Linked DNA regions of Homo sapiens. The protein of the gene in region 1 purifies or fractionates together with the protein of each later gene. This does not show direct contact. Each region holds a gene or a part of one and is shown on either strand. Other genes may lie near its edges.

Region 1 (3,500 bases):
ACTGGGACATATCCAGGGGATACGCATTGACCAGGTAGGCCCCATACCAGGACAGAGAGGAAGGCACAAAGCGTATGAGTCTCTTGAAGGTGATAGTGTCACTTTTTGCAGGGTTCAAGTGGAACACTTCTGGCTCCAGAAGGCCAGCCCGGAGTGTCTTCAGAAACCGGATGGCAGAAACAGTCATGTTGGTTGCCCGGGTGAGCTGGTCATTATACTCAGATTTTGGGTCAGGATTGAAAGCCATAAATGGATTAAAGTTCAGAACAACGGAGTCTCGAGCAGATAGGTACATATCAAACCAGGGTCCTAAAAAATAAAAAGAAAAAAATAACATAAAATGTTAATGCTGTCCCTAAAAATAAAATTTGAAGAAGAAAAAAAATTCAAGCATAGACAAAGGAAATGGCATCAACCTCCAGAGAGAAGAATTCCCTGAATGTTTTTGCTCTGCAATAATTCAAGACATACAAATGGGGTCATACAATATATGGTGTTTTGCATTTAGCTTCTATCACTTACAATAATGTTTTTGTTTTGTTTTTTTGGGACGGAGGCTCGCTCCTGTCGCCCAGGCTGGAGAACAGTGCTGCAATCTCGGCTCACTGCAACCTCCGCCTCCCGGATTGAAGCGATTCTCCTGCCTCAGCCTCCTGAGTAGCTGGGATTACAGGCGTCCTCCACCATGCCCAGATAATTTTTGGATTTTTAGTAGAGACAGGGTTTCACCATGTTGGGCAGGCTGGTCTCAAACTCCTGACCTCAGGTGATCCACCCGCCTCGGCCTCCTAATAATGTTTTTAAGGTTCATCCATGTTGTAGCATTTAAGTTCTTCATTTCTTCTTAGCGCTGAACAATGTTCCATTATATGGATATACTATATTTTGTTTATCCACTCATCAGGTAATGGACATTTGAACTGTTTCCACTCTTTATTATGAATTACATTGCCTTTTTTTTTTTTAAGAGACACAGGATTTCTATCATCCAGGCTGGATTGCAGTGGTATGATCATGGCTCACTGCAGCCTTGAACCCTGGGCTCAAGCGATCCTCCCACCTCAGCCTCCCAAGTAGCTAGGACTACAGATGCACACCACCAGCCTGGCTAATTTTTTTATTTTTGGTAGAGATGGGGTCTTATTATGTTGCTCAGGCTGGTTTCAAGCTCCTGGCCTCAAGTAATCCTCTCACCTCAGCCTCTTAAAGTGCTGGGATTACAGGTGTGAGCCACTGCACCTAGCTATTAAGAATTATGTTGTTATGAACATTCTTATACATGTTTTTGTATGGACATAGCTAGGAGTGGAACTACTATCACATGGTAAGTCTCTGTTTAACCTTTGAGGAACTGCCAGGATGTTTTCCAAAGTGGCTGCACCATTCCCACGAGCTGTCTGTGAGGGTTCCAATTTTTCCACATCCTCAGCAGCACTTGTTACATGTCTTGTGGCGTGGAGATATTCTGGTAGGTGTAAAGTAGTATAGCATTGCAGATTTGGTTTGCATTTTCCTAATGTTTATTAATTGCTTTTTCTTCCTCTTCTGTTTCCTTTCTTGGTTTAAAGGAATAAAATATGGTAACACTCCACTTGCATTCATGCTGGAACAGAATAGTTAATTCCCACCCCATCTCTTTAGGTTTCTCTTGCTTCATCTCCTTTCAGGGGCAACAATCATACTTGATTGCTCCCCGATAAGGGGGGAACGTCTTCATTGTCCTTCTATGTACAGTGTACATTTGTACACTCCCTGTTTAGAAAGTACTAAAAAAGCTATTATAAATATCAGTGCATGGATCACTCAGACTAGCCCTCTGAGTTCCTATAGATGTTTTACCTGTAAAAATTCCAGAAGCAATATTTTATCAGAAAATATGTCAGGGAAAGTTCCTGCTGGGATTAGTAAACATGAATAAACTCTATAAATAAGGACTATCATTCAGGCAAATAATGTTCATATGTATAGCACTGGGAAAAGGATTAATAGATGCAGATTTCTCTGTTACTCATTTGTTGGTCCATCCACTCATTCCATCCCTTGAGAATCAGTGCTGTGCCAGGCCTTGGTCCAGGGGATTTAGAGAGGAATAGGACATGGTCTTTGATTCTGAAAAACTCTGGTGAAGGAGGCAAATAATTAAAACATAACGCAATGCACTAAAATGGTGAGAGAAAAGTACTGGTGGATAAGATATATTTGATGAAAGAAGACATAAATTCATGCCTCTGACCCCCCTTTAGCAAAAGAATTTCAAAGAGACATAAACCAGTCAGGCCAAGAGAATGGGAGACGAGAAAACAAATACTGGAAGCTGGAAAGCACTTATGCAACTGGTAATGACTAAAGCAGACTCAAGAAAGCCAATCCTAAATTGGCAGGAGAGAAAGCCAAGAAATCATATGATTTGCACAGCAGAACCCCCAGAGGGCTCAGTAATTGGCAACCTAGATACATCTGGTTGAAGGACTATTCAATTATATCACCACTACCACAACCTGAGATTCCCTCCTCACTCCTGTAGAAGACTTAAGTTTTACTCTCTGGAGATAATAAAACTGGGGGCTGGGTGCAGTGGCTTATGCTGGTAATCCCAGCAATTTGGGAGGGCGAGGTGGGTGTATCATGAGGTCAGGAGATCAAGACCATCCTGGCTAACATGGTGAAACACCGTCTCCGCTAAAAATACAAAAAATTAGCCAGGTGTCGTGGCACGTGCCTGTAGTCCCAGCTACTCAGAAGGCTGAGGCAGGAGAATCACTTGAACCCAGGAGGCTGAGGTTGCAGTGAGCTGAGATCGCACCACTGCACTCCAGCCTGGGTGACAAAATGAGACTCTGTCTCAAAAAATAAATAAATAAAATAAAACTGGGAGACCTGAATCACAGTTGAGATCTCAAACCTTCTTCCCTTACTTACCCTGCCTTCTACAACACTAGCAACCTTTTGGCAGTTTACTGGAAAAGCCTCCCTAGGGAAGCTAACCCAACTACACTACCATTAGGGGCAACCCAGGGAAGCAGTTTAGCTGGATCACTGTATTAGTCTGTTTTCACACTGCTATAAAGAACTACCTGAGACTGGATAATTTATAAAGAAGAGAAGCTTAACTGACTTAGTTCCGCATGGCTGGGAAGGCCTTAGGAAACTTACAATCATGGTGGAAGGCAAAGGGGAAGCAAGGCACATCTTACACAGCAGCAGGAGAGAGAACAAGCAAGGAGTAGGAACTGCCAAACACTTTTAAACCATCAGATCTCATGAGAACTCACTATCACAAGAAAAGCATGGGGGAAACTACCCCATGATCCAATCACCTCCCACTAGGTCCCTCCCTTGACACTTGGGGATTATTACAATTCAAGATCAGATTTGGTTGGAGACACAGAGCCAAACCACATCATTCTGCCCTGGCCTCTCCCAAATTTCATGTACTTCTAACATTTCAAAACACAACCATGTCTTCCCAACAGTGCCCCAGAGTCTTAACTCATTCCAGC
Region 2 (2,377 bases), on another chromosome or scaffold:
CACGTATGAAAACAGAGGGGGAAGGAAGGAGGACTGGATAGAACCTCAGACGCAGCACAGTTCTAAGGAAGTTTCAGCCAGGTTGATGGGGGGTCCTGGAGCTAAAGTTGTCCAGTAGAGAAGTCCCACATTCCAAGGAATGGGCCAGCACTGGCACCCCACCATGTTCAGTCTCTGGCTGGAAGAAAGTATGGCCTTAGCATAAACAGGGTGGTGGAACAAGAGGGGTGGCAGCTGGGCTCTTACTCCACAGTGCTCCCGCGGCAGGAGTTCTAAGCAGCACATGTTCAGGGCTACTGCCCACTATGTTTGAAACAATATTGTCCCTGGAATGACCCTTTTCAGTGAATCCAAATAGGCTCTGTGAAATTATGCCAGCTGTCAGCTGAATACTCACAGTAGATAACATATAAGCTAGCCCACCACCACCATATTTTTCTCCCAAGTGCTGGAACTTTTCATCCCTATCAGCCAAGATAAAATTTTCTCATAGAACACAATCAGTGACAAACTTTTATTCAGAAAATAAAAGTATTATTTCATTTTATTATTCCCAAAGAATCAAGCCCATCATGAGTAGCCCACATGGTTGCTGTTCAAAGGTACTGAAAAGGGAGGCATTTGGTCACCATTACCCATCAAGGAACTCTTTACAAGGATAGGTTCCAAGTCCTTCGTGCTGCTCTTGGTCATTCAGTGACTGCAGTTTTGGCCCAGAAGCCATCCAAGATGAGCAAGTGCTGAGCCATCCTTAACTCATACCTAGATGAAACAACTTGCGCAGAAACGCTGGTCCTCCCCAGTAACCCCTGTAAGAAATAACACAAAAAAATGTACCTGCAGCAAGAGAGATGGGGCGACTTCAGTCAGGAGGATGCTGAAAGGGAAGCCAGGCTGCTCACAGAGCATGTTCATCAGCACGTAAAGCAAGATTGTCTAGTGAGTTGGAGAGATCCCATGACTAGGAGGGGACAACCTACTTCCATTCCTAAGCTTTGACAAAGACTTGCTGTGTGAGCCTGGATGTGCTAACTCAATTTGGCAAATGTGTCTAAAGCCTCTACTACATGCAAACTGCTACTCTTTCTGCTTTCATTACCTCATAATTAACTGTAGGATTTTGCAATCTTGGCCCTATTGATATGTTGGACCAGATAATTCTTTGCTGTTGGGGGCTGACCTGGCATTATAGGACGTTTAGCAGTATCCCTGGCCTCTGCTCACTAAATGCAAGTAGCACCCCTCCAGTTGTAACAACCAAAAAGTGTCTCCAGAAATTATCAAATGTCCCTGGGGCAGCAAGGGGTAGGAAGATCACTCTTGGTTCAGGACCACTGATGTAGACACCCAGATTTCTCTCTCATATGGGTTTAGAAAAGTCAAAGGAGGTCATCAGCTTTTAGAATGCAGAAGAGTGGCTGGGTGCAGTGGCTCACACCGGTAATCCCAGCACTTTGGGAGGCTGAGGCAGGTGGATCATTTGAGGCCAGGAGTTTGAGACCAGCCTGGCCAACATGGCAAAACCCTGTCTCTACTAAAAATACAAAAATTAGCTGGGCATGGTGGTGCATTCCTGTAATCCCAGCTACTTGGGAGGCTGAGGCAGGAAAATTGCTTGAACCCGGGAGGTGGAGGTTGCAGCGAGCTGAGATCACACCACGGGCAGGGCAAGACTTTGCCTCCAAAAAAAAAAAAAAAAGGAGGAAGAGGAATTACTCGTTTTTATTACTCTATTTACTTATTGAATCCCTACTATGTACCTGCCTCTTTATGTGTTATCTCATTAACCTCCATCTTGTGAGGTAGGCAATGTTACTTTCATTTTGCAGATGAGAAATTTAAACACAAAGAGTGTTTAATTAAATTAAACAGAACTTTCCCTGGGACACACAGCTATGTATGTCATGCTAATAGCATGACACTGCTAATGGCCATAATGACACTGCTAATGACTTCTGCCATGCTAATAGCAGAAGTATGACTCAAATGCAGGTCTGACTCCAAAGTCTGTGCTCTTACTCACTGTTTGGTTTCTCCCATAACAATAAAAACAAAGGTAAGGGGCCAGGAGCGGTGGCTCATGCCTGTAATCCCAACACATTGGGAGGCCGAGGCGGGCGGATCACTTGAGGTTGGGAGTTTGAGACCAGCCTGGCCAACATTTAGTAGAGACCCGTCTCTACTAAAAATATAAAAATTAGCCAGGCGTGGTGGCAGGCACCTGTAATCCCAGCTACTCAGGAGGCTGGGGCAGGAAAATTGCATGAACCCAGGAAGTGGAGGTTGCAGTGAGCCAAGATTGTGCCACTGCACTCCAACCTGGGCAACAGAGCAAGACTCTGTCTCAAAAAAAAAAAAAAAAAAGTAAGGTAGCAGA

What was found. The genes of interacting proteins can lie anywhere in the genome.
Region 2: the proteins of CPT2 (region 1) and SQOR fractionate together in Homo sapiens (co-fractionation; one large-scale study listed by BioGRID). This does not show direct contact.

The regions. Positions count from the first base shown.
Region 1 is NC_000001.11:53,206,824-53,210,323, reverse strand, and holds part of CPT2 (carnitine O-palmitoyltransferase 2, mitochondrial isoform 1 precursor), read right to left. Parts: intron 310-3,500; coding exon 1-309. UniProt on the Homo sapiens protein: Involved in the intramitochondrial synthesis of acylcarnitines from accumulated acyl-CoA metabolites.
Region 2 is NC_000015.10:45,689,405-45,691,781, reverse strand, and holds the end of SQOR (sulfide:quinone oxidoreductase, mitochondrial), read right to left. Parts: intron 810-2,377; coding exon 752-809; 3' UTR 501-751; downstream 1-500. UniProt on the Homo sapiens protein: Catalyzes the oxidation of hydrogen sulfide with the help of a quinone, such as ubiquinone-10, giving rise to thiosulfate and ultimately to sulfane (molecular sulfur) atoms.